Regions from separate parts of the Homo sapiens genome. Here regions 2, 3, 4, 5, 6 and 7 are each linked to region 1. The links come from fine-mapping of genetic effects on gene expression. A gene starts in region 1. Each other region holds a variant in brackets. All regions are shown on one strand. Distances are from middle to middle.

Region 1 (4,397 bases):
TGCCACCACGTCCGGCTAATTTTTGTATTTTTAGTAGAGACGGGGTTTCACCGTGTTAGCCAGGATGGTCTTGATCTCCTAACCTTGTGATCTGCCCACCTCGGCCTCCCAAAGTGCTGGGGTTACAGGCGTGAGCCGCCGCGCCCTGCCTAGAACTCTTACACCCAGCTGGTGGGCATGTGGAATGCTACAGCTGCTTTGGAGCGCAGTGTGGTCACTGCTTAAAAAGTTAAACATAGCTGTACCACATGACCCAACAATACCACTCCTCAATATATGCCCAAGAGAATTAAAAACACATATTCACACAAAGACTTGTACACATGTTCATGGCAGCATTATTTATAATAGACGAGGGGTAAACAATCCAAATGTCCATCCAAATGAATAAAATGCGGTGCATCCATACCGTGGGGTACTATTCAGCCATAAGGAGGAATGAAGCATCAATACGTGCTACAACGTGGGTGAACCTCGAACACATGATGGGAAGTGAAAGAAGACAGACACAAAAGACCACATATTGTAAGGTTCCATTTATATGAAGAAATGGCTAGAATGGGAAAAATGTATAGAGACAAAATAGATTGATGGTTGCCAGGGCAAAGCCGGGGGGAAGTGGGGAATGGCAGCTAATGGGTAAGGGGTTTCTTTTGACTTGATAAAAATGTTCTGGAATTAGTGATGATGGATGCCCAGCCTAGTGAATATACTAAAAACCACTACGTTTTGCACTTTAAAAGAGTGAACGTTACGGAATGTGACTTATATCTCAGAAAATCAAAAAGAAGTAAGCTTAGCACGCACATACTAAGTGATCGATAAATGTTTGTTCTTTTTCTTCTTATAAAAAACCATTCTCGAGGAGTGGTCTCCAGGTCAGCAGCATCAACATCACCTAGGAACGAGTTAGCAGTGCAAACACCCTGGGAGGGAGGGGGCAGCAACCTGTGTGGCTGTTTTTTGTTTTGTTTTGTTTTCAGATGGAGTCTTGCTATATTGCCCTGGCCGATTTTGAACTCCTGGCCTCAAGTGATCCTACCACCTCAGCCTCCCAAGTGGCTGGGACTACAGCAGCCTGTTTGAATCAGCCTTCCAGGTGATCCTAATGTATACCCAATTTGAGAACCACTGGGATTAAGGAACAAGACGACTCTTTACCTCCTCTCAGGGTGTTAAAAAGTGCAGTTCTTCCAAATTCTTTCCCTCTAGAGAGCACAATGACAATATTAGTTCAGACTTCCAAGGTGTTGAAGAAAGCCCGCCTCTGCATCTTGAAAGCTGATTCCTATATCCAGCAACATTGAAGAAGACTGCAGATCACTCTGGGTGTCAACTGCATGTACCTACATCCATCGCACCAAGATTCTTGAGTGCCAATCACAGAAACCCACCTGGAAGTCAGGTCCAGCTCCAAGGATGGTTTAACTGCCCCCTTCCCTTTGCCCTCTAGCCAGACCCTGGTGAGGGTTCCAGCCAGCAGGGTGACCCCACATCCCAGTCGACCCCGGACAGGCCCCAGGCCCGTTGTCCCAGGTGGAGTTGACAGCCCCCTCATGCAGAAGGCTGTGTGTGGACTGGCGCTGCCCCTGCAGGCCAACACTGGGAGACCAGGGACCCGCATTCGCCTGCAGCCAGCCTCACACTTGCGCAGAAGCCGCCACTGGGCCCAGGGCCAGTCCAGACCCCATCCCCAGGGCCGGCCAGCCTCTGTGACCCGTCTGTCAGGGGAGGGGCAGCACTGATTTCCAAGGATGCAGCCCGTATCAGGGCCTCCTGGCACCTGCCCTGCGCTGGAAGATTCTTCTAGTCTCCCGGCCCCAGTGTCAGAATTCTGAGAACTGGCCGGGCGCGATGGTTCACTCCTGTAATCCCAGGACTTGGGAGGCCAATGTAGGCGGATCACCCGAGGTCAGGAGTTCGAGACCAGCCTGGCCAACATGGTGAAACCCCGTCTCTACTAAAAATACAAAAAAATTAGCCGGGCGTGTTGGCGGGAGCCTGTAATCCCAGCTAAAGAGGCTGGGGCAGGAGAATCACTTGAACCCGGGAGGCAGAGGTTGCAGTGAGCTGAGATTGCGCCACTGCACTCCAGCCTGGGCGACACAGCAAGACTCTGTCGAAAAAAAAAAAAGAAAAGAAAGCTGAGAATTAGGAGGAACTGCAAACCCTTTCCAGGCGCCCTTTGCAGTGCTAACACGCCCCGGGTTGCACGCGCAACCAGCCAAAAGCCGCCAAACTCTGCTTCTTGACATCCTTCTCTCACACTGCACAGCTTTCAAAACGCCAGAAGCCCTGCTCTGCACAGCGGCTCCCCTGTCTGCGGACTGGGCCGTTCCGTTCTGGACCCAGGCCGGAGGCCGTGGGCTGCACCGCTCCAGGAGGCCAGGCTGGCGCGCGCCCGAGGCCGGGGCTGAGGGGGCGGCGCGGAACTCGGGCCGCGTGCGGGAGCGCCACACGCCCGCCAGGGGGCGCCGCCCGCCCGGCCCCGCCCCGCCCCGGCCCGCTCCGCACGCTCCGCTCCGCACGCTCCGCTCCGGGACGCCGACGGCGGCGGGCGCTTCCGTCTCGCGGGCCTCGGCCCGGTGCGAGCGGCTCCGCGATGTGGCTGAGCCCGGAGGAGGTGCTGGTGGCCAATGCGCTGTGGGTGACGGAGCGGGCCAACCCCTTCTTCGTGCTGCAGCGACGCCGGGGCCACGGCAGGGGCGGCGGCCTTACGGGTGAGAGGCGCGCGGGCGGCCGGGCCTGTGGGCGCCGCGGCTGGGCTGGCGGCGGGGCTGGCGGCGGGCGGCGGGCGGGTCCGGTTCCGGCCCGGCCTCGGCGCGTCGCGGCGGACACGCACGCCAGCGCGCGGCGGGGCGGGGGCGCGAGGCCAGGACCCGGGAGCCGGGCGCGGAGGGGCCGGGGCGGGGAGGCGAGGGGCTGGCGGGAGGCGAATGCGCCCTCGGCGGGCTCTCCTCAGGTCGGCTTGGGGCGGCCAAGTGGAGACCGGCGGCGGCTTCTGCCCGGATTCGGCGCCCGCGAGCCCCGGGGGCCGTGCAGCTTCCCGGGATCTCACCGCCGAAAGTTGGCGAGACCGCCCTGTCCTCATCCTCCACCTCAGTTTCCCCAGGTGCCTCTAAGGGGCCAGGTGACGCCAGCGCACGTTTTCTTTTGCCCTCTTCTTCGTGCCCATCTCACCAAAGTATCGCCCTTTTAGCAAGATCAGAGGTCCCTGGAGCTGGCCGCACCCCCATTCCCCCAGCTTCTCCTCCCCCACCTTTCCTGCTCCTGGCTGCTCTCAGAGCTGCGCACCCAAGGCTGTGGGTAGCGGCACAGGGTGTTCCTGCAAGCTCGCCAAGGTGGCCCTTTGTGGGCCCGGGTGCCACCATCACACAGGATGAAGCTGGACAGGCACCCTTGGAGTCGTGCGGCCTGTGGGATCCAGGGGAGGCCCACAGGCCACTCCCTCCGCAGGTGGTGTCCGGGGCCCCTCATGCTCCAGGGCCTGCGCCCAGCACTGCAGGAGCCCGGCTGGCTCGGGCTCAGTGCCTGTGCTCTTCGGGGCACCGACTGTTGCCCTACAGGATTGCGGTCCCAGTGTTGCCAGGTCGTCCAGTTTATCAAGAGCATTTTCTGTGAATCATCCTGATTTTCAGTGTGAGCAGCTAATAGCCAGATGCAGACGGAGGCTTCTCCTGGGCCACGTTTCTTCATGTGGAAGAGACTGTTCTGTTCCCAGAAACACTCAGTGTTCCCTTCAGCTTCGGGTTCCCTCCCAGTGGGCTTCAAGGATCTCGGGCTCCTGTTCTGGACCCGCCTCCTAGATCCAGCTGTTCAGTCGGCAGCCCCTGTGGCTAACCTCGAAGCTACTGCAAGCCCGATGAAGAAAGCGAGGGACCGGCACCTTTTCTTCCGCCAGCGCGCCAGGGTGTCATCAGCGCGCCAGTGTGTCATATTCGCTGGTGTACTTGAAACACTTGTGCTGTGCTCGGCAGGCTTATGTGGGTCGTCTCATTGAACGGGCGGGTGCAGGTGCAGCCCGGTCTCTGTACACCTCCTTCCTGCGGGCTCTTCTCCTTTCCACCTCACTCTCCGTGTCCCCTGGGACCGAGCTCCCAGGGTCCCCCCAAGGGAACCCTTCTTTGAACCCTCTCCCAATCTCTCCCCACTGCTAGGTTTGGTGTGTCCTGCTGTGCCCTCTGACAGGGCCTTCCCTGTGCCATCATGGGCATCGTGGCCTCCTGAGTACTGTCCTCCCTGAAGAGGAGCAGACAGGGATGTGGTTTTATCCAAGCCATCTATTAAAAACATGCCAACCTAGACTTTTCATTAAAGAATCTGAATAGCTAGCTTGGCCAACATGGCAAAACCCCGTCTCTACTAAAAATATAAAATTTATCCAGGCATGGTGGCAC
Region 2 (4,397 bases), 27 kb after region 1:
TTATTCCAGGCTGGGCACAGTGGCTCACACCTGTAATCCCAGCACTTTGGGAGGCTGAAGCAGGCAGATCACTTGAGGCCAGAAGTTCAAAACCAGCCTGGCCAACATGGTGAAACTCTGTCTCTACTAAAAATACAAAACTAAGCTAGGTATAGTGGCACATGCCTGGAATCACAGCTACTTGGGAGGCTGAGGCACAAGAATCACTTGAACCCAGGAGGTGGGAGAAGGAGGTTGCAATGGGCCACGATCCTGAGAGATTCCTCCTCAAGAGAGGTATCAGACTTTGTGATACAGTAACAACATTTTAGAGTAACTTTTTGTTGGGGGTTGGGGAGGGTGTCTCCTGGAGTGCAGTGGCACAATCTCGGCTCACTGCAACCTCTGCCTCCCAGGTTCAAGCAGTCTTGTGCCTCAGGCCCGTGAGTAGCTGGGACTACGTGTATGTGCCACCATGCCTGGCTAATTTTTGTATTTTTTGTAGAGATGGGGTTGAGATTTCACCATGTTGGCCAGACTGATCTCGAACTCCTGACCTAGGGTGATCCACCTGCCTCAGCCTCCCAGAGTGCTGAGATTATACAGAGTAACATTTTTAAGATATACAATAAAAGAAGCTGTGACCCAGGGATTTTATACCCAGCCAAACTGACGTTCAGGTATAAAGACCATAGGCTGTAAAGAACATGCAGAGGAGTTCAGGGGCTCTCTCAGCTTCTGTGGAGTCTGCTGGAGAACAGACTCCAGATAACCAAGGAGTGATGGAAGCAGCTTGGGCCTAACGACTGGTGGTAGCATTGATTATATTTAGCTGTGGAATTAAGGTTAGATAGTAGGAATAGAGGTGACAGTATATAAATGTTATAATCTCTGATGATGGAGACATAGTACAATCAAAACCTGAGGTTAGGGAGGTATATGAGGCTGGGCTTGATGGCTCATGCCTGTAATCCCAACACTTTGGGAGGCCGAGGCAGGCGGGTCACCTGAAGTTGGGAGTTTGAGACCAGCCTGGCCAATATGGTGAAACCTCGTCTCTATTAAAAATACAAAAATTAGCCGGGCATGGTGGCACACACCTGTAATCCCAGCTACTTGGGAACCTGAGGCAGGAGAATTGCCTGAGCCCAGGAGGCAGAGGTTGCAGTGAGCTGAGATCACACCTCTGTACTCCTGCCTGGGTGACAGAGCAAGACTCCATCTCAAAAAAAAAAAAAAAACGGAAGGTATATGGAAAGATATGGAAAATAGAATAAGCTCACTGATTGCCTTATTAATTAAAAATATATCCTTTTGATCAGATGTTGGCAGAGAGGGAGGAAAGTGGGAAGAAAAGGCCTGCTAGCTAATTTCAATATTGCTTGTAGTAGGGAACTGACATCTTAAAAAGAGAGGACTAAGAAACTATATAATGATATTAGCATAAAATGTTACAGTATAAATATACACTTTCTAACAGGGAAAAAAACTTGAAAGGGGGAAAGGAGACAGTGAGATTAAGCATCTCTTTCAAGAAATTTTGTATAAAGGTCAACAGAGTAATGGAGGTAACTTCTGGGAGGGCTAGAATTTTAATTGAAGTTTAACATATATATCCAAAAGTAAACATACGGTGTACAACTGGATGAATCTTAGCAGAGGGAGCATAATAGGTGAACAGCACCCAGCCAAAGTGAGGGTGGGCTTTAGAGGAGTAACAGTGCAGTTCTGTGCTGGGAGAGCGACTCCTGCAGAGAAGGCAGGGGATGGGGTCCAGGTGCAGGCAGGTGGGCGGGCAGGAGGGCACCCGTGGAGGGCTCGGATTGTTCCCTGTTCTCAGTTAAACAGGAAGAAGTGTGGTTCAGTGGGATGCAAGGATGGCAAGTGGTTTTGGAGGTTTATGTGAGGTGGTTACCTCGGGGAAGAGGGGAGGACTGGACTAGGAATACATAAGATCCCAGGCAGCTCTGAGCACCCACCTGAGGCCAGTAAGCCCGAATGTAAGGTGGGACTTGAGCCAAGCTTCTGCCGAAAGCCGCCTGGTCCCTGAGCTTGGTGCCACGCTTGCCGCCTCGCCAGGAGCACACGTTGGCTGCACGCCACACACCCGGCGGTCTGGCCCCTTCCCTGGCCAGGAGCACACGTCTGCTGCACGCCACACACCCGGCGGTGTGGCTCCTTCCCTGGCACTGAGATGTGTGATCCTCCAAGGCACCTCACAGCCTGCGAGCCCGTGTGTGTCCTAGTCGGTCCCTCTGGGGGAGCTCAGGTGGGAAGCAGGATCTCCAGGCAGGCAGTCAGTCTGCGCTGGGGCCGTGCCCACTGGATTCAGGCAGCTTGTCGTCAACATTTGTTTAAGTGGACCCAAAATCCATTTCTAACATCAC[AGG/G]GGCCAGAGGGGTAGACTGTGGGTGTGAACCTAGCAGAGTTCTCTCTTTTTTTTTTTCCTTTTTCCTTTTATATTAATAACAACTTTATTGAGGTAAAATTGATACGCAATACACTGTACATATTTAAGGAATACAATTTGGTACGTTTTAACAGGTATACGCCCATGAAGCCATCACCACAGTCAAGATCAGGGTTCTCTCAAAAAAACACAGAATGTGAAGTGTTTTAGGAGGGCGCCCAGCACCCTGGCAGCTGCCCCAGCCCTGGGTGGAGTGGGACCGTGGCCACGGGACCAGAGCCAGTGGGAGGGTGTGAGGGGTAGAGAGCCCAGCCCAGGCCAGAGCCCACCATGGGGAATCGACCACCTGCCCAGCCAAGAAGTTCAGGCAGTCAGCTGGCCCTGGTCGAGCTGGGCTCTCCCCCACTGGACTTTGCTTTCTGCCAAGACAGCATCACTCTCAGGCCGGTGTGGCACCATGATGGCAGCAGCAGGCCTTGCATGCTCCCTGGGTTATCCCAACACTCCTGCAGAAGGGCCACTCATTTCCTTGGTAGCAACCGGGTGACGCAGTCGCCCTAAACCCACCCTGAGCCCAGCCCAACATCACAGGCCATCACCCAGCCCTCTGTGCAGCCCAGGAAGCATGGGCCCGAGGGTGGGCAGGGGTGTGCCTCCACGTTAGGATAGGGCCTCTCCTGTCCTTTGCACTGACCCCCCTCAGAAAAGGGCCCCACAGGGTGAGCCCAGAACCCGCTCCCTGAGACTGACTCGCTGGTGAGAGTGGGGTTAATTACTGAGGACTCGGTGTCCAGCAGCCAGAGAGGAGCTGAGGGCTGAGCTGCAGCCACAGCCTCCTGCCCAGCCAGACAGGCTCTTCTCCGTGCACCGTTTGCCCCCATGGCCCTTCTTGCACCGGGCCCCGATCCAGCTCTGGATGGATGGGCGCATCAGAGGCCACCTGGCAGCACAGTTGTTAGGGCGTCCCCTTCCCTGTTTTATTTTCTAGTCTTCCCCAGCTCCTCAGGAGGGGTCGGAGCAGCCCGCCAGCCCAGCCTCTCCCCTCAGCAGCCGCCAGAGCTTCTGTGCGCAGGAGGCGCCAACCGCATCCCAGGGCCTGCTGAAGCTCTTCCAGAAAAACTCGCCCATGGAGGACCTTGGAGCCAAGGGGGTGAGCCCTGAGCGCCGGCACTCCAGCCTCCGTCAAGAGCGGAGCCCTCAGGAGGAAAGCTGGAGCCAGTCCTGGGCCTGGGCCTTCCCTCAGGGCCCTGGGCTGACCGCTGGGCAGTGCCCACCCAGGCTGCACCCTGGCAGCGTGAGACGGAGCAGGCACTCTCTGGGGGGCTCCGCTGACCTGCTCAGTGTGCTGTTTGCCACGGACTCCAGGCCTCTGAAGGGAAGGGCCCTCCCGCTGAGGAGCTGGTCTCCTGAGCCTTGGGAGGTGTGGCTCAGCGCGGCCTGGTCTTTCCCGGGAATTGCGAGGAAGGCCACACTTGCTGGCCAGCACTGTCTGGAGTGTTCACGAGGCTTCCGCGGTGGCCTAGGCCTCGGCACTCAGATGCGCTTCGGCCCCCAGGCTCCCTGATGCGCTTTTCCCTCAGGCCAAGGAGAAGATGAAAGAGGAGTCATGGCACATCCACTTCTTCGAGTACGGGCGTGGCGTGTGCATGTACCGCACAGCCAAGACGCGGGCACTGGTCCTGAAGGGTATCCCTGAGAGCCTCCGGGGAGAGCTGTGGCTCCTCTTCTCCGGTGAGTGGGGTGCAGCCACCCCCAGCCTCAGCTCAGCCAGTCAGTCCCCAAGCTCTCCCCGTGTGAGCTCGTCTGTCCTGAGCCGGCCTGGAGTTGGCCAGGCAGGAGCTCCCAGCTCTTTCACACAGCCGGGAGCCGGGCTCTGGGCTCTGGGCTCTGGCCCGGGACCCAACCAGAAGGAGCATCTCGAGGGACAGAGGCTGGGGAATGGGCACTCTGCTGGCCGGGTGGTGCCCTCCCGCCCACAGCGGGAGGGAAACAGGTCCCCTAGAGGCCT
Region 3 (4,397 bases), 240 kb before region 1:
GGAGTGGTGAGAGAGGGCATCCCAGAGACAGGGTTTCTCCATGTTGAGGCTGGTCTCGAACTCCTGACCTCAGGTGATCCGCCTACCTCAGCCTCCCAAAGTGCTAGGATTACAGGTGTGAGCCACAGCACCCAGCCAACATTTTTTTTTTTTTAATCCCTGGGGAAGGAGGAGAATCTGATTTCAAGAGTTGCCACATTGCAAGAGTCAAATGTCCAGTTTTCTACAAAATAAATACCACAAGGCATATAAAGAAACAGGAAAACATGGATCATTTGAAGGAAAAATAAGTAAATCAACAAAAACTGTCCCTGAGAAAGACTACATGACAGACTTATTAGACAAAGGCTTTGAAACAACTGTCCTAAAGATGTGCAAAGACGTGAAGTAGCAGTCAAGAAAAAGATGTATGAACAAAATGGAACTATCAATAAAGAGACAGAAAAACATACAAAGGAACCAAAAATAAATTTTGGAGCTATAAAGTACAATAACTGAAATGAAAAATTCACTAGAGGTATTCAAAAGCAGATCTGAGGAGGTCAAAGAAAGAATCAGCAAACTTGAAGATAGGGCAATTGAAATTATTGAGTCTGAGGAACAGGAAAATAAAAAAGATTGAAAAAGTGAACAGAACCTACAGGACCTAAGCAATACCATAAAGCAGACCAACATACACTTTGTGAGAGTCCCAGAAAAAGAAGGGAGAGAAAGGTATAGAGAGATTATCTGAATAATTAATGGCTGAAAACTTCCCAAATTTGATGAAAAACATGAATATAAACATCCAGGAAACCCAGTGAACCAAGTAGGATAAACTCAAAGAGACCCACAGTGAGACACATTATAATCAAACTGGAAAATACAACAACAAATAGAGAATATTGAGAGCAGCAAGAAAGAAGTGAGTCATCACATAAAAGGGGTCCTCGGCTGGGCGCAGTGGCTCACGCCTGTAATCCCAGCACTTTGGGAGGCCGAGGCGGGTGGATCGAGAGGTCAAGAGATGGAGACCATCCTGGCCAACATGGTGAAACCCCATCTCTACTAAAAATACAAAAATTAGCTGGGCGTGGTGGTGCATGCCTGTAGTCCCAGCTACTTGGGAGGCCGAGGCAGGAGAATCGCTTGAACCAGGGAGTTGGAGTGCATTGCAGTGAGCCAAGATTGTGCCACCACACTTCAGCCTGGTGACAGAGCTAGACTCTGTCTCAAAAAACAAAACAAAACAAAACAAAAACTGATCCTCAGTAAGATTATCAAGAAATTTCCCACGGAAACCTTAGAGGCCTTGGCGGGCACAGTGGCTCACACCTATAACCTGTAATCCCAGCACTTTGGGAGGCTGAGGTGGGCAGATCATGAGGTCAGGATATTGAGACCATCCTGGCCAACATGGTGAAACTCCGTCTCTACTAAAAATACAAAAATTAGCTGGGCGTGGTAGTGTGTACCTGTAGTCCCAACTACTTGGGAGGCTGAGGCAGGAAAATCACTTGAACCCAGGAGGCAGAGTTTGCAGTGAGCCGAGATTGTGCCATTGCACTCCAGCCTGGTGACAGAGCAAGACTCTGTCTCAAAAAAAAAAAAAAAAAAGAAAAAAAAAGAAAAGAAAAAGTAGAAAAGAAACCTTAGAGGCCAGAAGGCAATCGGTTGATGTATTCAAAATGCTGAAAGTAAAAAAACCTGTCAACCAAGAATCCTATGTATGGCAAAACTGTCCTTCAAAAATGAGTACAAAGTTAAGACATTCCTAGATAAACAAGAATCGAAGAAAGTCACTACC[G/A]CAAGGCCTACCTAGGAGAAATACTAAATGAAGTGCTTCAGGTTGAAATGAAAGACACTAAAGAGTAATTCAAAGCTGTGTTAACAAAAATATCTGGTAAAGATTTATCCATGGGCAATTATAAAAGCTGGTATTATGATAACTGATTTGTAACTCTACCTTTTTTTTACATGATTTAAGAGACTAATACATTAAGAAAATAAGTATTAAGTCTGTGCTTTTGAACATAATAAAAATGTAATTTTGTGACATCAGTAACTAACAGGGTGGGGACAGAACTGTATAGGAGCAGAGTTTTTGAATGCTACTGAAGTTAAACTGGTCTAAATTCAAATTAGAGTGTTGTAACTTTAGGATGTTAAATGTAATTCCCATGGTTGCCACAAAGAAAGTAGCTATAGGATATACACAAAAGGAAACAAGAAAGGAATTAATGTTTCACCACAAAAAAAGAACACAGTACTGCAGGAAATAAGGAACAAAAAGATACAAGGCAATAGAAAAAAAAAAACAGCAAAATGGCAGGAGTAAATCCTGTCTTAACAGTTATTATTTAAAAAGGAAATAGATTACACTCTCTAGTCAAAAGACAAAGATTGGCAGAATGGATTTTTTAAAAAAGATCCAACTATATATTGTCCACAAGAGATTCATTTTAGATCCAAAGTCATAAATAGGTTAAACATGAAGGGACTGAAAAAGATACTCCATGTAAACAGTAACAAAAAGAGAGTGGGAGCAGCCATACTAATAACAGAAAAAATACTTTAAATTTTAAAGGATTACCAGAGACAAAGAAGGGTATCACATATCAATGAAAATTTAATATAGCAAGAAGACTTAACAATTATAAACATTTATGACCCCAAAACAGGTCATTAAAATATATGAAGCAAAAATGGGCAGAATTGAAAGGAGAAATGGACAGCTCTATAGTAATAGTCAGAGACTGCAATACCTCACTCTCCAGTCTAATGCTTTCCCAACTAAGCTATTTCAGCAGCTGCTACCTCACTCTCAATAATGGATAGAATGCCCAGACAGAAGATAAGTAAGGAAATAAAAGACTTACACAACACAATAAGCCAACTAGGTCTAACAGACATATACAGAACTCTACTCAACAACAACATACACAGTCTTCTAAAGTGCACGTGGGATATTCTCCAGGATAAACCATATGTTAGGACACAGATTAAGCCTCAATAAATTTTAAAAGAGAGATATCATATGAAGTATCCTCTCCAACTATGACAGGATGAAATTAGAAATCAATAATAGAAGGAAAACTGGAAAATTCACAAATTTGTGGAAAGTAAACAACACATTCTTAAACAACCTATGCATTGAAGAACAAGTCCCAAGGGAAATTCGAAAATACTTAGAGATGAATGAAAATGAAAACACAACATACTAAAACATGGGATACAGCAAAAACTGTCCTTAATGGAAAATTTATAGCTGTAAACACATTAAAAAAGAAGAAAGATCTCAAAATAACAACCTAATTGTACAATGTAAAGAGCTAGAAAAAGAGGAACAAACTAAACCCAAAGCTAGCAGAAGGAGGGAAATTATAAAGATTAGAGAAGAGATAAATAAAAGAGAATAGAAAAACAATAGAAAAAAATTTAAAAAGCCTAAAGTTGGTTCTTCAAAAAGATTAACAAAATTGACAAACCTTTAGCTAGACTGACTGAAAAAAAAGAGATGACTGAAGTTATTAAAATCAGAAATGAGAGTAGGGATACTATTACCAATTCACATAAATTAAAGGGATTATAAGAGTACTATAAAAAATTATATGCCAACAAATTGGAAATTTGAACAAATTGGAATTTCTAGATGAAATTCCTAGAAACTGAAATCATGAAAAAAAAATTAGAAACCGTAAATAGACCTATAACTAATAATGAGGTTTAATTAGTAATTAAAAGCCTTCCAACAACAAAAAAGTCCTGGACCTGGTGGTTTCACTGGTGAATTCTACCAAACATTTAAAAAAGAACCATCACCAATGCTTCTCAAACTTTTCCTAAAAATTAAAGAGGCAGAAACACTTCCTAACTCATTTTATGAGGTCAGCATCACCTTGATACCAAAGCCAGACAGAAGCACTACAAGAAGTAAACTACAGACCAATATCCCTTATGATGCAAACATCCTCAACAAAATACTAGCAAACCAAGTTCAGCAGCATATTAAAGAAAATTATACACCACAACCAAGGGAGGTTTATTCCTGGAATGCAAAGATGGTTCAACATACGAAAATCAATCAATGTAATACAATAGATTAACATGATGAAGGAAAAAACACATGATCATTTCAATTGATGAAGAAAAAAGCATTAAACAAAATTCAATGCCCTTTCATGACAAAAAAAAAAAGTACTCCAAAAACTGGAATAGAAGGAAACTACCTCAACATAATAAAAGTCACATATGAAAAACACATAGCTGGCCAAGCACAGTGGCTCATGCCTGTAATCCCAACACTTTGAACGGATCACTTGAGCTCAGGAGTTGGAAACCAGCCTGCGCAACATGGTGAAACCGTGTTAAAAGTACCAAAATACAAAATACAAAATGAGCCGGGTGTGGTGGCATGC
Region 4 (4,397 bases), 380 kb after region 1:
CCAGCACTTTGGGGAGGCTCAGGCAGGTGGATCACGAGGTCAGGAGATGGAGACCATCCTGGCTAACATGGCGAAACCCCGTCTCTAGTAAAAATACAAAAAATTAGCCGGGTGTGGTGGCGGGCGCCTGTAGTCCCAGCTACTCGGGAGGCTGAGGCAGGAGAATGGCGTGAACCTGAGAAGCGGAGCTTGCAGTGAGCCGAGATGGCACCACTGCACTCCAGCCTGGGCGACAGAGCGAGACTCTGTCTCAAAAAAAAAAAAAAAAGAGAAAAAAGAAAGAAAGAAAAGTGGCCCGGCACAATGGCTCACGCCTGTAATCCCAGCACTTTGGGAGGCCGAGGCTGGCGGATCGCGAGGTCAGGAGTTCGAGACCAGGCTGGCCAGCATGGTGAAACCCTGTCTCTACTAAAAATACAAAAATTAGCCGGGCATGGTGGCCCGCGCCCAGGCAGGCTGTTCTGGGAGAGAAAACTTGGCTCTCCAATGCGGTGTGGCCATTTGGCTATGACATCACACTGCATAGTTTAATGAGTGAAATCAGACCTCTTCTTGTTATTGGAGATGACTGGAGGATTTTTTTTTTATTTTCCTGAATGTAAGTAGGTAAGCCATGAAGATCCCAGATTTCATTCAGGGACTCAGAACCAGCAGCAAGGAGCAGGCTGCGTGGAGAAAACAGAGTTGGCTCTGGAGTACCCCATGAGTCCAGCTTGTTCAAAGTAAAAGTGGCAATGGCTTTGGGATCACAAAACAGCCCTTGAACATCAAAGTCAATTAGTAGAAACCCCTAAATATCATGGGGCAAAAAATATTTCAAATTTACTTAAATATTCGGTTTATCAGATGGGACTCACTTTTTTTTTCTTTTTTTTTTTTAAACAGATTCTCACTCTGTTGCCCAGGCTGGAGTGCAGTGGCGCCATCTTGGCTCACTGCACCCTCTGCCTCCCGGTTCAAGCAATTTTCCTGTCTCAGCCTCCTGAGTAGCTGGGACTACAGGCACGAGCCACCACGCCCGGCTATTTCTTATATTTTTAGTAGAAATGGAGTTTCACCATGTTGGCCAGGCTGGTCTCAAACTCCTGACCTCAAGTGATCTGCCAGCCTGGACCTCCCGAAGTGCTGGGATTGCAGGCGTGAGCCACGGTGCCCTGCCGGGACTCAATTTTTAACACCTATTTTTAACACTAGCTTTTGTGCTAGTAAATTAAATTAATTCTTTTAAAAAAACCCAATTGTGTGTACTTTAACAAGTAAAACTAAGTTGGTTATAATGTGACAAAAATACAAGCAATAATAATAGCAAAATTATCCAATAGGAACCATGCAGAGAGTTTTATATTATAACTCATGTCCCCTTTCCTGCAATGTTATTAACTTCTATCCCCATTTTCCACATCAAGGAAATTAAGTTTGGAGACACAGAGTGACTTACCTAAGTCACAGGTCTGGTAGGTGGAGAGTTTCTCTCACTCCAGGGACCACAATCTACAAAATAAACTTGCATATTCTACAAAATATTTGTTACCATTGGAAGTAGGTAGGCAGAGTGTTACTAGCATCAAATTATGGCAGGAATAAAAAGAAAGGGTGGTGGGCTGGTCTTGCTTCTGCAGTTTAAGGGGGATCCCTGCGCCGAGATGTCTGGCTAAGTGGTCGTTGTAACAAGTGGCAGAGATGGTGAAAACATCAGG[G/A]AGCAGGTGGTGGCTGTTCCAGTTTCTTATCTCAGGAGGGAAGAGCTGCAGATGTCTTTACTGTGAATGAGGGAGAGAAACGCTAAAGCACAGAAATGTTCAGAACCAAAGAGCTGGATCACTCATGCTTCTAGAAAAGACATTGGCATCTTCTCATTGCTCATCTACTGTGCCTGGCACAGCCTTATTTTCTAGCTTTCTGAATGTGAGTTCCATCCATATCCTTTGCATAACGGTGGTACTGGGCTGTGGAGAGCTTGGAATGTGTGTCCATGGGGAAATGGGCTGTTCTGGTTATTATAAAACGGCCAAGGGAGGGCTCCATGGCACACCTCTGAGTAACCCAGGACACTCCTGTTTGGGAAATGCAAACCATCCATACGGCAGGGGCACAATTATAAAGATTGATCCTGTCACGGGAATGGTTTCAAATCTGACCAACCTCATGGCATACATTGGGGAAGCAATTGTGAAACCCCTTGATTCTTTGGATCTGGACATGCTGTACTGTGACAATGGTTTGTGTGTGACAGAAAATGTAGCTGTGTCTACCGGGAAAGACTGGGGAAATTTCTTCCTGTGGAGTTCTTTATAAAGCAAAAGTGCATGAAACTGTCAGTAATATTGTAGTCTATAAAGGGAAATTGCTCTTAGAGGCTAATATTGCACAATGACTACTTTTTTTGCTTATTTGGAAAAGATCTTTATCTCTTGGAGTATTAAGAAGTCAACATATAATTGCCACCCTATACATTGTGTTCTGGAGTGCCTGATTTATTGAAATCAGTGTGAAACCTATTTTAAATAAATATCTATTTCAAAACCAAGGCCAGACATGGTGGCTCATGCCTGTAATCCCACACTCTGGGAGGCTGAGGTGGGAGGATCACTTGAGGCCAGGAGTTCAAGACCAGCCTAGGCAACACAATCTCCACCAAAAAAAAAAAAAAAAAAAAAAAAAAAAGCAATTAGCCAGGCATGGTGGCACATACCTGTTGGTCCCAGCTACTCGGGAGACTGACGCAGGAGGATCGTTTGAGCCCAGGAGTTCAAGGCTACAATGAGCCGTGATGTGCCACTGCACTCCAGCCTGGGTGTGAGACCCTGTCTCCAAAAATAAAGAAGTCTGGAAATATTGACAGTATTTTTCTAATAGATTGAACCCACTTATTCTTCTGGGGTAAAGGCATAAGTTTACACCCGGGAAGTTGGACACATAAATCATCTGCAGCAATGTATGGTGGACGCAGGTGCAGCAGATGATGGGAACGTTGCTTTAAGGCACACCATGCATTGCGGTTTTGCACAACCTGTTGAACTAAGAATTCCTAGTGAGGGGCAGCACATTAAACATGTCATAACAATAAACTATTTATTATGGACAGTAGTCTGTTTTCAGACATTGTGGCTACCCCAAACAACTTTAAGTCAAAAGACATGATCATTTAGTTTAAACCTGTATAAAAAGTCAGTTTAAAAAGGGTGCAGTACTCTGTAATGTATTTTCTATATGGAAATCTTTCCTAATTGGTCCGTTTTTCTGATGATTAAACATCTGGCACACTATAAAAAGAATACAAGCCAGTGGTGTACTAGAGGACACTCATGACCGTGTTTCATCATTTTGAGATTCAATGACATTGAAGGGAGTAAAATAGAAAATATAATAGGTATAAATTTGTAATTATAAGGAATAGGAGGGAAGTTCTTGTTGGAACAAATTGGCTGCAAGGGCCCTCGTGTCGACTTTGCTCCTTTTGAAGAAAGGAGTGTGATGCTTTCACCCTGAGGGATAATCTGAGAGACTTCACCAGTGACACATACTTGACAGATGATATTAAAGCAGACTTTAACAAGCCAACGACAATGTGTTACTTATGAGCAGTAAGAAATACACAGTCTAACCAAAGTGCACCCTTTAGAAAGTGCTGGGCATATAAGTAGTGAGGCCTTTCATTATTCTAATACACATGTTGACTAAATGGACACTTTCTTCAATTCGGATGATAAGACGCCTCTTCCCAGTAGTTGGGATGGCTGTGCGTCTGTCTCAGGCACACATTCCGTGAGAAGCTGTGTAAGATTTCAGTTTATTTGGAGCATCACATCCTTTTTAAACCCTTTACTGAATATAAAATGAAGCCTGACCTCCTGAGTCTTGGAAAATGTGCATTTCTTAGAATTATTTAAACAATGAATCCTCCGGCTGGACTTGGTGGCTCACGCCTCTAATCCCAGCAGTTTGGGAGACCAAGGGGAGTGGATCACCTGAGGCCAGGAGTTCGAGACCAGCCTGGCCAACATGGTGAAACCCCGTCTCTACTAAAAATACAAAAATTAGCCAGCTGTGGTGGTGCATGTCTGTAATCCCAGCTACTCGGGAGGCTGAGGCAGGAGAATCGCTTGAACCCAGGAGGTGGAGGTTGCAGTGAGCCGAGATCACACCACTGCACTCCGGCCTGGGTGACAGAGCGAGACTCTGTCTCAAAAAAAAAAAAAAAAAAAGAAAAGAATCCTTTTAAGTAGTTCATCAGCTTAAGCCATGTTGGCTGAACATTAAGACTTTGTCAAATCCTGGAAACATAGGTAATATCATTTGAAGGTATTAAATTTTAAGGAACAAAATAATATTAAAATTAGGAAGAATTATTTTGCCATAGGATAAAATAGAAATACTGCCATACATTTGACTTATTTGTT
Region 5 (4,397 bases), 170 kb before region 1:
CCATTACCCTGTCTGCTGTCCTGGGAGGGCAGACATTGCTCACAGGGGAGACAGATCTCCTCCTGAAGGACTGAAGCTCTTACGGGGCCTGGATGTGGGAGGCTGGCAGCTCGGGCCCCACTGGAGTTCTGGGGAGAAGGGGATTTTGAGCTGGGGCTTACAGGTGACCTAGGATTTATTGTAGGCTGAGAAATGGACACAGAGGCAGGGGAATATGGTGCGTGGTGGAGTCAGGGAAATAACCCCATTAAGGAAAAAGGTTCGTGGGCAGCTCATTCACAGGCCAGCGTGGGCCAGAGCCAGACTGCGGCACACATCCTCCGTGAGACCTGCCATGTCCGATAAAACCACTCGTACTTTTATTTAACCAATACTTTTAATTCACTTTTTTCTTAAATGTTTTAAAAGATAGCATCGTGTAAAGATATACACATGGCCAATAAGCACATGAAAAGATGTTCAGCACCACTAATCATTAGGGAAATGCAAATCAAAACCATAATGAGAGACCACCTAATACCCATTTAGATGGCTACTATTTTGAAAAAGAAGTAGAGAAGTGTTGGCAAGGATGAGAAGAAACTGGAACCCTTGTGCAGTTGGTGGGAATGTAAAATGGGGCAGCTACTATTAAAAAAACAGTAGGGCAGTTCCTGAAAAAAATTAAGCATAGAATTACCATTAGATCTGGTAATTCCACTTCTGAGTATATACACAAAAGAATTGAAAGCAGGAAGGGATATTTATACGCCCAATGTTCATAGCATCATTATTCACAATAGCCAAACAGTAGAGGCAACCAAGTGTCCTATGATGAATGGATAAACAAAGTGTATTATATACATACAGTGGAATGGATGAATGGCTAAAAAAAAACTTGGAATATACATACAATGTGATATGATTCAGCCTTAGCAAAGGAGGAAATCTGATACGTACTTCAACAGAGGTGAACCTCAAGGACATCGTGCAAAGCAAGATAAGCTACTCACAAAAGGACAAATACTATATGATTCCACTTATGCGGGTAAGTAGAATCATCAAAATCATAGAGACAGAAAAGAAGAATGGTAGTTGGGGAAGGGGGAACGTTTAATGGGTGCAGAGTTTCAGTTTTACAAGATGGAAAGAGTTCTGGAGATGGATGGCAAAGGTTACACAACGATGTGAATGTACTTAATGCCACTGATCCATATGCTTAAAAATGGTTAAGATGGACAATTTTATGTTATGTGTATTTTACCATAATATTTTAAAAGGTAGCGTTGTATCACTATTATAAATGAAAAACTTCTTGTCTCCCTAAGGTCTCCTTAAAACCTTGAGGTTTCCTTAAAAGACAATGCCACTCCCAAGTACAGGCTGGTGTGAATGTTGCCGTACATGCTGGTGCGTGATGAGGCTGTGCACCGAGACCTCATCTTGCTTTATTTAAAGGGGAGATCAGCAAGTGCCAGGGAAGTGTTAAAGGTGCTCTGGAACCAATTTTCTCCTTGACAAATTCAGAAGGGTTGAGAAAGCCACTTCCTCCCCACCTGATTAACAAAGTGGTGCTTGTGAGCTTCTATAATTGTTTCTTGTGCCAGGGGTCATGGGCACCTTACAGTTTGAAGACTCCTCCTTTATAAGGACAAAGGAGTAGAGGCCATGAGCCTCTTGGGCAGGGGTAGGCCAGGGCATGCCCAGCAAGAAGAGCAGGAGACCGTCACCGGGAAGAGCCCTACACAGGCCCTAGATGTGGCCCTGGGCTGTGGGGAGAAGGAATTTCTGGGTCTTAGGTGCTAGAGCATGGGTACCTTGGTGCTAAGGACTCCTTGCCCTATGAAGGGTCCAGCTGGAGGGGACCAGATTAGAGCACTCTTTAGGTGCCAGGCCCAGGGCGAGGACCCCGCTGCTTTGGCCTAGGGTCTGTACTTGCCGAGGATAAGTAAATAAGTAAAAGCCGTTCTCCATAGGCCAGGGCACGGTTTATAAGGACTATGGTAGAGGATGGAAGAGAGGGAAATGGAGGGAGAAATTGTAAAGGATGTCTGCCAAGTCATCAATAGTGGACATCTGTTTTCTTTCTTTTTTCTTTTTCTGAGACGGAGTCTTGCTCTGTCGCCCAGGCTGGAGTGCAGTGGCTCGATCTCTGCTCACTGCAACCTCCGCTTCCCGGGTTCCAACGATTCTCCTGCCTCAGCCTCCCGAGTAGCTGGGACTACAGGCACGCATCACCACGACTAATTTTTTTATTTTTAGTAGAGACGGGGTTTCACCATGTTGGCCAAGCTGGTCTCGAACTCCTGACCTCGTGATCCGCCCACCTAGGCCTCCCAAAGTGCTGCGATTACGGGCGTGAGCCACCGCGCCTGGCCAGTGGTGGGCATCTTAAGTTTTAGCCTGCACTGCATCCGTACCCTTTCCTGGAAACAGTGCCTCAAATTTCTTTTTGGGGAGCCACCTCTTTTCCGGATTTTCAGAACATTTGGTTGTGCAAAGCTGACTCCACCCACTTCCCGCAGTAGGAGACAGGAGACTCAACCCTGGCTGGTCAGAAGACGCCAAACTTTCCCCCTCCGCCTCCCCACAAAGATCCTGTAAGTTCCTGAATTCGGCTGCACTGCCCCATTCTTCCTTTTAGCTGATACTTTATAGCGATGTGTATCTTTTAAACGCCATGGAGAGAGAAAATGAGAGTCGTGTGTGTGTGCGCGCGCGCGCGTTTCGGAAGGTGGAGGGGGGGTTCCCACTGCAACCCTCTGGTCCGGGGGCCCCTGGAGTAGTTCA[C/G]CTAGTCACTAGAGCAGGGGCTCCCCAACCGCCCGGCCGCGGACCTGTACCGGCCCAGGGCCTTCGAGGAACCAGTAAGCGAGCAGGAGGTGAGTGAGCATCACCGCCTGAGCTCCGCCTCCTGTCAGATCAGGGCGGCATTAGACTCTCATAGCAACGTGAACCCGGCTGTGAACTGCGCATGCTTGGGACCTAGGTTGCCCACTTCTTACGAGAATCTAACGCCTGATGATCTGAGGTGGAGCAGCCTCATCCGGAAACCACTTCAACTCCCTCAGTCCCTGGAAAAACTCTCTTCCTGGAAACCCGTCCCCCAGTGCCAAAATGGTTAGGGACGGCTACCCTAGAGGTCTTTCCCAACCACTCGTGTCCCTGCAGGTCCGGGCCAGAGACATCCCCCATCCATGATGTCAACCGCATGACGTGAATGTTAAATCTCATGACATTTAATTTTAAACATTTCTTTTAAAGTTATGGCTTTTTTTCCTTTGTAGTCTGTTCTCACACATTTCCATACGTCCTCGCAAATCTCCCGGGCTCCACGCCCTGCGGCTATCACGCCTGACAGAGAAACAACCAGCACCAGCGGCTGACCCGGCTGCCCGGGCCCTCGTGCAGGCGGGCGGGAGCGGACAGGCCCTGGCACGCATGCGCTCGGGGCGGGACTGCGCCTTAGGCCTGCGCGTTGCCGCTAGACCAGCGGGGGGGCGGGGCGGCGGCGGACACGCGCCTCAGGCGGCAGCCGCGCGAGAGGGACTTTGTGTTCCGCTGACCCTCCTCGGGGCGCTTCCTCCCGTGCCGCCCTTCCCCTCCCCCGCCGCGTCCTTGCGAGGCGCCTCCCATTCGGTGGGACCGACCCGGGGGGATGGAGGGGGCACGCTTCTACAACCCTCCTGGGACCCCGAAGAGACGCCCGCGTGCGACCTGAGACGCCGCCCTCGCCGAGGGCCCATGGGCGCGTCCCCACAGGCGGGCAGTGGACGTGAGGGCGGCGAGCGGCGGGGCCGCGGCGTCCAGGAGGGCCGCGCTCGGGCTCGGCCCCGCGCAGGCCGCGCGCGCGCGCTCCCGCCGCCGCCCGGGCCGCGCCCGCCCCGCCTCTAGGCGCCGGCCCCGGAGCCCGGTCCGCGAGCAGCGGCGGCTGCCGGAGGGACGATGAGCTGCGCGGGGCGGGCGGGCCCTGCCCGGCTCGCCGCGCTCGCCCTGCTGACCTGCAGCCTGTGGCCGGCACGGGCAGACAACGCGAGCCAGGAGTACTACACGGCGCTCATCAACGTGACGGTGCAGGAGCCCGGCCGCGGCGCCCCGCTCACGTTTCGCATCGACCGCGGGCGCTACGGGCTTGACTCCCCCAAGGCCGAGGTCCGCGGCCAGGTGCTGGCGCCGCTGCCCCTCCACGGAGGTGAGTGCCGGCCCGGGGGCGGCGGGCGGTGGTCGCTGCATCCCGCGTAGGCGGCGGGACTAGGGTTCCCGGCCCCGGCTCTGGCCCTGGCTCTCCCGCGCTGCCCGGCCGACAGCCCCAGCCAGGGTCGAGGCTTCCGTCGTGGACAGCCCGGCCTGCTCCCGTGGGAACCAGGCTCCAGGAGCGTGACTGGGTTTTTCCCTTCTTTTAAAAAAGACTTGGAACGGTC
Region 6 (4,000 bases), 120 kb before region 1:
CTGTTTCCATAGCTGTCTCAGTTTCTTCTGGTTGTTCATCTTCCAAAATCATATTTAATAATTTATCACAGATTTTAATTTTTTATGACATTCTCAATCATTTTTAGTTATAGAAGAAAAAAATGTTTTAGTTGGATGATATAGTACCTCTAAAATAGAGAAAAGAATTTGGCATAAATGTCAAACAGTCACAAGATTGGGATTTGAATCTTAGACCAAGTTGATTATCAGCTTTGTGATTTCGGGTAACGGAGTCCTTAAACTGGCATCCTCGTCTACCTAAAAGAGGGTGATTGCAAAATTTATTGAGCTAACAAACTGTAATGTATAACAGTTGTACAATTTTTCTTATGCCTGGAATAAGCAGTAGCTTTTATAAAATTATGAAATCAATTTTTCTTTCATTTTGAGATTGGCACTTTAAAAAAATTTCTAAGTATACTTTTTCTTCATTCTCCTGGTGTTTTTCCATATAACTTAATTGTTTAAAATATATCTAGTACAAAAAAATAGTTAATCAACAGGTATCGATTTATACCTGCTATATGCCAGGCATTCTGTGATGGACACTGTAGGGATTTGTAGAAGGATGTACGAGTGAGTGTTTGCCGGGAACACTTCCTCCCTTAGGGAAACACACACGCCTGAAGTAATTGGGGAACCACTCAGTGCATAACTTTGCATACCTACGTAGCGGGATCAGCTGTAGTGTTATTACGAAAGGGGTTCTGACCCAGGTCTGGAAGACTTCATGTAGGAGGCATTCATTGTGCCAGGCCCTGCATAATGAGGATTACTTAGGATTCGACCAGAAAGAGAAAATCCTCTCAGTAGACGAACCACATGAATCAAAAATCTGGTGAGAGGAGAGGGAGTCGGAAGGAAATGGAGAAAATCAGGTAACTGCAAGTAGAGAGAGGGAGTTGGATTCTATATGCTAATTGTTTTTTGAACTCTTGTTAGAGCTCCAAGCATAAACAAGACACACATGGTGCCTCTTTCCATGGAGTTATAACAAGCAGAGAAGATGAACATTGAGTACGAAGTCATGACTGTGGGAAGTGACTTAGGTCCAAGGGGTCAGAGAGGAATGCCTTGAGGAAACAGCATCCGAGTCGGAGTTGAGGAGTTGAGAAGAGTATTCTAGGCCAAAGGCCCCTTGTAAGTGAAGGATCTGAGGTGGGGAAAAGCAAAACAAAAGTAATTTTAAGTACAGGAAAAAAACAGCACAGCTCAACATGGTGGATAGGGTAATAGTAAATTCAATTCAGAGCAGAAGTGTGCCTAAAGCAGGGACTGTCGCTTAGTAACACGGGAGGATTTGAAAGAAGGGAGGCGTGGTCTCGATGAGGTTGATGCGGCCTAAGCTGTGCTTTCCAGCGCTGCACTGGGGTGTGCAGTCTCACACCGGCAGCAGCCACAGAGCCGGGCAGCCGGAGCCCCAGTGAATGATGGCAGCTGTCTCAAGCAGCTAGCAGGGTTCCTAGCTTCTTCTCTGCCATCTGATTGGGACCTGGAAAACCAGCAGGAAGCATTGGGTGGGAGTGTGGAGGGAACCAGTGGTGGCAACAGAAGCCCCACAGGTGACGTGTGGAGAGGAAGAGTGGAGCAGGAAGGCACGCGTCCTGGCTGCTAGGGTTCTTAATGGAGTGGGTGCTCAGGATGAGAGGGACAGTGGTTATAGAAAGGTCCTGTTTCAGTCCAGCGAGCTGCACTAGCTGAAAGCCTGTCCTAAGAATGGGGTGAGAAGTGCAGGTTAAGTAGCACAGAGAACACACACACTATCAGAAGCTTCTCTGAGTCTCGTCTTTTCAGCCAGGCATTCACGGTAAATCTCCAGAATTATGATCCTCTTCTGACTTT[C/T]GTATGCCATAACTCTCTGCCTTTCTGTTTCTGCTTATACTCAGAGAAGGTCATTATACACTGGCAACTCCTTGCTTTCCAGGCTCATCAATGTGTTACTCAGTTCCCTTCCTCCACAGATAACCCTTCTCACCCTGTAGGGCAGTGCTGTCTACAGAAATTCAAGAACCCTGGTGTCAGAATCACATAAGCTAATTGGAAAGACACTGATTCCAGGATCCTCCCCCCACCCCACCCCAGACAGTCTCAAGGGATGGACCCAGAGACCCGTGCTTTCACCCCGTCCTGCTCCTGTGCCAGTTTTGCCCTCCCTTCATCATAGGGCAGAAGCAGTGGTTTGGCAGCTCTCTGTGCTGTGCATTTTGATGTGAACTAGTAAGAACTGGTAAAAGTCAAAAGGAGAGAAACCCGGATCATTGCCCTTACTGAGTTTACAGTCCAAGGCTCCTGCAGTCTTCAGAGCCCTCTCTGTGCCTCCATGACAGTATTGTCCTTTTCCTTTCATGTGGTCATTCTTTGCATACTGGACTGGCAGTAAGGAAAAGCCCAGGGTTTCATGCAGTTAAAGTTTGTGTCATGTCTTTCGGTTCTCTGCAGTGGTCAGCAGAATGCCCTGAACAAAATAAATATGGCTTGCTCTGAAATGATTTTATTAAGTTATTTAGTTTGGTTGTTAAGCTTTCTTTTCATTTAAGGCTATGTTTTATACCTAATTTTAAAATTCCACATTGGAATATAAGTATTCCCTATATACTGTATGTACCAATACAAGTGTAAGTATTTTGTTTTCTTGCCTTGTCAACCAAGAGCTTGGTCCTGTTTATTCTAAAGCATGCCCTTCACCTGGTGACTGAAGGACGTCTGTTCCAGTGCCCTGTCCATGACGTCATTGACAGGAAAGGCTACTCATTGTGTGGTTTCACTTGTTACCTCTGGTTAGCAGAGTGAGTTCTTTGTCATGTAGTTAGCGGATCTGTGGTAGTATGAAGGGGACGTTATGGGTTCTTGGATAGTTTACAATAATGCATACTTGTCTGAAAATTATGGATTTATTTTCCTGGTTTTTAAAGATTTATATAGACTTTACTGTTATTGTTTAATCATCTTAAGTTGTGTTAAATCACTGTCTGATAGAATTAGCTGTAGTTTTATCTGTATGTCTGTAAGAATTTTGTGGACATTCTTTCCATTGTTGAAAGGAAGATGAGGTAATTTAGATAAACATGTAACCAAATAATAATGTTGCTTTTTAATCTTTTTATCAATCAGCAATATCAGATGCTTCTTACTGGGTTTTTCTTTTTTTTTTTTGGATGGTTGAACAAAATTAGTTGAATGGCTCTTCACCTTTTTTCCATCATATTCTCTTAAAAACGTATTTAGCTCTATATTTATTATCTAGCATTGAATAGAAAAATGTCACACTTTGTAAAATATAGAAAATTCACTGTGAATACAAAAAATACTTTATGAAAACAAGTAAAAAGAAATCACAAACACATTGTAGAATACCTTTACGTATCAGTAATTTGGGCCACTTAACGTAAATCTATTTTCTTTATTCTAAATGCCTATCAAGAAAATGAGTAATATAAGTATACTATTGTTTTACCGTTTAAAGTTTTTTAGCTTCTAATTGAATATGGATTTAACTACCTCAGAAAAGATGGAGCTTGGAATTGAAGTGTACTGCTGTGGCAGGAAGTAAGGGTTTAAATTGCATTTATATTTTTGCCTGAGTTTGCACATGCTTCTACTGTATCTTCCATCTGGTTCATACATTTTTTTAAAAAAAATTCATAATTATCAAAATCTAAAACTGAAACACTTAAGCAGTAGCTTTAAAAAAATAAAAATAGCCTTTAATAAAATAAATGCAATGGTTCCATTTTAAAACTTCCATAAGCTCTTAATTTTCTTTTTTCTTTAAATCTGAAGTGGAACTGGAGAGTGCCTTCACCAGCAGATACATGAGACTGTCCTCTAGCCTTCCTTGCAGTCTCCGTGTCCCAAGTGGGTTGTTTGAAGTTGTCACTTGATTTACTTTTTTGTCTTTTCTGTGCTTCTCTTTCCTCACTGGCAGCAGAAGAGGAGGAAGGTAAAATCATATAAAGGATCTACATGGGTTTGAAATACT
Region 7 (4,000 bases), 150 kb before region 1:
CCTTATAAGAAGAGGAAAAGATACAGGAAGACACACAGAGAAGGCGGCCATAGGAAGAAGGAGGTTACAGAGATGGCATCATTCTGCCACAAACCGGCGGGTGCAAAGGATGGCTAGCAGCCATCAGACGCTGGGAGAGGGGCTGGAGGTGGTTTTTCCCTTGAGCCTCCAGTAGGAATCAGCCCTGCTCACACCAGACTTTGGGGCCCCAGAACTGTGAGACAATGAGACTATGTTGTTTTAAGCCACCAAGTTTGTGATGTCTTGCGGCCGCCACTGGAAACTAATACAAAGAGAATCCCAGCGTTGAACACAGGCATGCAGGGTTAGCTTTGCCAGCACAGGAGAGAGTCGAGCTATACTTTCTTCATCCTTCTGGATGTGCCTGAAGTCACGTCAGTTGTTGTGGTTTTTTCCAAAAGACCATCCTGAGCCCACTGTTGATTAAACTTCCAGTGTTTTCCACCGAGGCTGCTCCTAAGCCATCAGCCATTTCATTCAGCCTTTCAGGATACTTGCTGAATCCTGATGCGTCACCCACAGTCTTTACTCTTTCTAGCAGCTTGTGTCACTAGTGAATGCATGAACATAGCTTTTTTTTTTTTTTTTTTTTTTTTTGAGACGGAGTCTCGCTGTCGCCCAGGCTGGAGTGCAGTGGGACAATCTTGGCTCACTGCAGGCTCCGCCCCCCCGGGGTTCACGCCATTCTCCTGCCTCAGCCTCCCGCGTAGCTGGGACTACAGGCGCCCACTACCTCGCCCAGCTAATTTTTTGTATTTTTAGTAGAGACGGGGTTTCACCGTGTTAGCCAGGATGGTCTCGATCGCCCGACCTCGTGATCCGCCCACCTCGGCCTCCCAAAGTGCTGGGATTACAGGCGCCCGGCCGAACATAGCTTTCTGTATCTTCATCTAGGTTAGTGGTTCTTAGCCTTTTGCTTTATAGATCCCCTTTGATAAGTGATGAAAGCGGTGTACCTTTCTCCAGAAGACTACGTATTTATGTAGAGATACACAGAACTTTTAATAAGGTTAGGAGGCCAGTTGCCTCTTGAAGCCCCAAGTTAAGAATCCCTGCGCTAAGTTAGGGTGGAAGTGCTGGCAAGTGAACGGACAGGCCCTCGCGGTGTGTTGGTAAAAATCTAGGCTGCTGGGCGTTATTCCATTAATCAGCACTCTTCAAGGATGGCCGTTTCACAGAGTTCTAACTCACTTTATTGACTTTGCATTTAGCATGTGTTTCTTCAGCTTATGATACCATAAAAGACATAATCAGATGCTTTGCTGGAAAAAACAAGGATACTCTATGTACTTTGTTCCTGATTGGCTAGGCCAGGAGCCACTGCACGGAAGGAAAAGAAGTGAATCTTTCATGGCTTAGCCTTGGTGTGTTAGTTTCTTATTGCCGCAGTAACAAATCACCAAAAACTAGGTGGCTCACAGCAACACCAATTTACTCCTCTTACAGTTCTGGGGGTCAGAATTCTGAAATGAGTTTTACTGGCCTCAGTGAGA[C/G]CAAGGTGTTGGCAAGACTGCGTGGCTTTGGAGCTCTCAGGGGGAATCATTTCCTTGCCTTTTTCAGCTTGTAGAAGCTGCCTGTGTTCCCTGGCCCATGGCCCCTTCCCCCATCTTCAAGTCTCTGACTTTGACTTTCTCCGTCTGTCACCCACATTTAAAAGACACTTGTGATTACATTGGGCCCACCCAGACAGTCCAGGAGAATCTCTTTATTGTAAAGTCAGCCGATGATCAACCTTGTTTCATCTGCAACCTAGTTCCCCCTTGCTCTGTAACCTGATGTATTCACTGACAGGTCCTGGGGATTGGGAGATGGACGTCTTTGAGGGAGCCGTCGTTCTGCCTCTCTCACGTAGCAGGCCTGTGCTGGCACCCCACCATTACAGCTTTCTCTTCACACTGTCTGCAGATTATTCCTTCAGTAATCATTTGTGAAATTTTTCTAAGGCTTAGCAGGACCCTAATGGGTCAGTTGTTTTCACGGCTCACCTTCATTGTTTCGTATCAGTGCTCTGTACACGGGTTGGTTTTCCAACATTTCTTTTCTATGACTCCTTAAAGGTCAGTGATGCACCTTCTCATTTGCATGTTATCAGCAGACTAATTCATCTGGATCAGAAAAATCCTAAATTCCTGTGGGACAGCTGCCTCAAGTATTCATTCATCAAATAATTATTAAGCACCTACTGAGTTCCAGACAGGACAGGAAGTTCCTGCATGCTGTTGCTGTCTGGTGGGGGGAAGTAAAAGGAGTCAGCTCTTGTGTCCTATCTGGGGAAAGCAGACCGTTACACAGGTCATAACACGATTATTTAATCATAGTCTTGGGAAAGCATCGGGATGCTGAGAGCATAAATGGCAGAAGAGACTCAGTCTAGGGTGGTCAAGGCGTCCCTGAAGAAATGATGTTTCAGCTGAGACGGCAGCATGAGCAGATATTACACTGAGAGGGGGCAGAAAGGAGGATGTTTCAGTCCAAGGAAATATACACGAAGACTAAAAGGTGCAAAAACTGTGATGTACTTGTGGAATTTGAAAGGAGTTAGAGAGTAAGGGGGAGAGTGGGGCACAGTAGAGTTGAAAAAGTCAGTGTTTTCCAGGCCTTGTTAGGATTTTGGACTTTATATAAGAGGAATGGAAAACTATTGGAGGGATTTTTGTTGGTGTTTTAAGATTTTTTAATTGTGGTAAAATAACGTATAAATTGACCATCTAACTGTTAAGTCATGGTAAGTACATTTCCACTGTTGTGCGACCCATCTACAGAACTCTTTGTCTTGCAAAATGGAAACTCTATACCCATTATACCAGCTGGGTGCAGTGGCTCAGCCTGTAATCCCAGCACTTTGGGAGGCTGAGGTGGGCAGATCACTTGAGGTCACGAGTTCGAGACCAGCCTGGCTAACATGGTGAAACCCCATCTCCACTAAAAATACAAAAATTAGCGTTAGCCAGGCGTGGTGGTGTGCACCTGTAGTCTCAGCTACTCAGGAGGCTGAGGCAGGAGACTCGCTTGAACCCGGGAGGCAGAGGTTGTAGTGAGCCGAGATCACACTACTACACTCCAGCTTGGGCGACACAGCAAGACTCCATCTCAAAAATAAAAAATAAAAACATACCCATTAAATGACAAGACTCCATTACCCCCTCTGCCGCAGCCCCTGCGAACACCACTCTACTTTCTGTCTCTATGAATTCGACTAGGTTAGTTCCTCATAATTTGTAACTGGATTATTTCACTTAGCATATGTCCTCAGGTTCATCTGTGTTGTAGCATGTGTTAAAATACTGTTGAAGAATTTTAACCTGGGGAATAAAGTGACCAGATTTTTAAAAATTAGCACACATTTTTACCAGCTGTAACATACACTGAAAAATACACAACCGTAAGTCTGCAGCCTGATGACTTCCCACAGAATGAACACACTGATGTAGCCATGAACCTAGTGGAGAAGTTGAGTGTGGCCAGCTTTGCAGACCACCTCAGGTCCCTTCCAGTCACGGCTCCTTCCCTCCTCGCTCCCCAGCAGTAACTTCTGTCCTCGCTTTGACACCGTAGTTTATACCTGTTCCTTAACTTATGTGTAAAGGACAGCTTTTTACCTGCAGCACTCTGATACCAAATGTGTGGATTTTCAACATCAATTGGATGTCCTACAGTTTAATTCAATTCTGACACTAACTACCTGGTAAAGTTAGCGCAGACCCCACAGGTAAAGGGCCTAGTCCCACAAAACCGCCCCCTACTTCAGACACCGGTTGTAGGTAGTGGGACAAAGGGTACCCACACATCTGTCTTGACTTGGCTACAATTCAGGAGGTTCCCGTAACGCCCTACTCAGTTTGATAATTTGCTATATAACAGCTCATAGAACTCAGGAAAACACTTTACTTACTGTCCCTGTTATTATAAAGGGTGTTATGTAAGATACAAATTAAGAGCCGGATGGAGAGGTACATAGGGTAAGGTCTGGAAGGGTCCC

Evidence for each region.
Region 2: its variant is fine-mapped to the expression of TBC1D9B in whole blood (TOPMed, PIP above 0.99).
Region 3: its variant is fine-mapped to the expression of TBC1D9B in whole blood (INTERVAL, PIP 0.98).
Region 4: its variant is fine-mapped to the expression of TBC1D9B in whole blood (INTERVAL, PIP above 0.99).
Region 5: its variant is fine-mapped to the expression of TBC1D9B in whole blood (TOPMed, PIP above 0.99).
Region 6: its variant is fine-mapped to the expression of TBC1D9B in whole blood (TOPMed, PIP above 0.99).
Region 7: its variant is fine-mapped to the expression of TBC1D9B in whole blood (TOPMed, PIP above 0.99).

The regions. Positions count from the first base shown.
Region 1 is chr5:179,906,027-179,910,423 of GRCh38, reverse strand. It overlaps TBC1D9B (TBC1 domain family member 9B), which reads left to right and starts at 2,527. Exons shown (of 21, transcript NM_015043.4): 1 at 2,527-2,720. The coding sequence starts at 2,603. RefSeq lists silencers at 2,376-2,535, 2,606-2,665, 2,676-2,815, 2,866-2,915 and an enhancer at 2,796-3,573.
Region 2 is chr5:179,878,770-179,883,166 of GRCh38, reverse strand. TBC1D9B (TBC1 domain family member 9B) reads left to right here. Exons shown (of 21, transcript NM_015043.4): 8 at 3,378-3,539; 9 at 3,970-4,120. Among named protein-coding and RNA genes, the nearest start is that of MRNIP-DT, 22 kb to the right of the region's middle. The variant AGG/G (reference allele first, on the strand shown) is at 2,367.
Region 3 is chr5:180,146,288-180,150,684 of GRCh38, reverse strand. The region is part of intron 1 of RASGEF1C (RasGEF domain family member 1C); the gene reads left to right. Among named protein-coding and RNA genes, the nearest start is that of RASGEF1C, 61 kb to the left of the region's middle. The variant G/A (reference allele first, on the strand shown) is at 1,787.
Region 4 is chr5:179,525,166-179,529,562 of GRCh38, reverse strand. The region is part of intron 4 of LOC128966623 (a long non-coding RNA gene); the gene reads right to left. It overlaps LOC100289470 (chromosome 5 open reading frame 60-like), which reads right to left. Exons shown (of 4, transcript NR_171571.1): 4 at 4,389-4,397. Among named protein-coding and RNA genes, the nearest start is that of RUFY1, 23 kb to the left of the region's middle. The variant G/A (reference allele first, on the strand shown) is at 1,698.
Region 5 is chr5:180,071,227-180,075,623 of GRCh38, reverse strand. RNF130 (ring finger protein 130) reads left to right here and starts at 3,865. Exons shown (of 9, transcript NM_018434.6): 1 at 3,865-4,168. The coding sequence starts at 3,922. RefSeq lists a silencer at 3,515-3,594 and an enhancer at 3,484-4,191. The variant C/G (reference allele first, on the strand shown) is at 2,770.
Region 6 is chr5:180,025,292-180,029,291 of GRCh38, reverse strand. All of the region lies in intron 2 of RNF130 (ring finger protein 130), which reads left to right. Among named protein-coding and RNA genes, the nearest start is that of MIR340, 12 kb to the right of the region's middle. RefSeq lists a silencer at 1,369-1,663. The variant C/T (reference allele first, on the strand shown) is at 1,864.
Region 7 is chr5:180,057,687-180,061,686 of GRCh38, reverse strand. The region is part of intron 1 of RNF130 (ring finger protein 130); the gene reads left to right. Among named protein-coding and RNA genes, the nearest start is that of RNF130, 12 kb to the left of the region's middle. RefSeq lists an enhancer at 1-563. The variant C/G (reference allele first, on the strand shown) is at 1,515.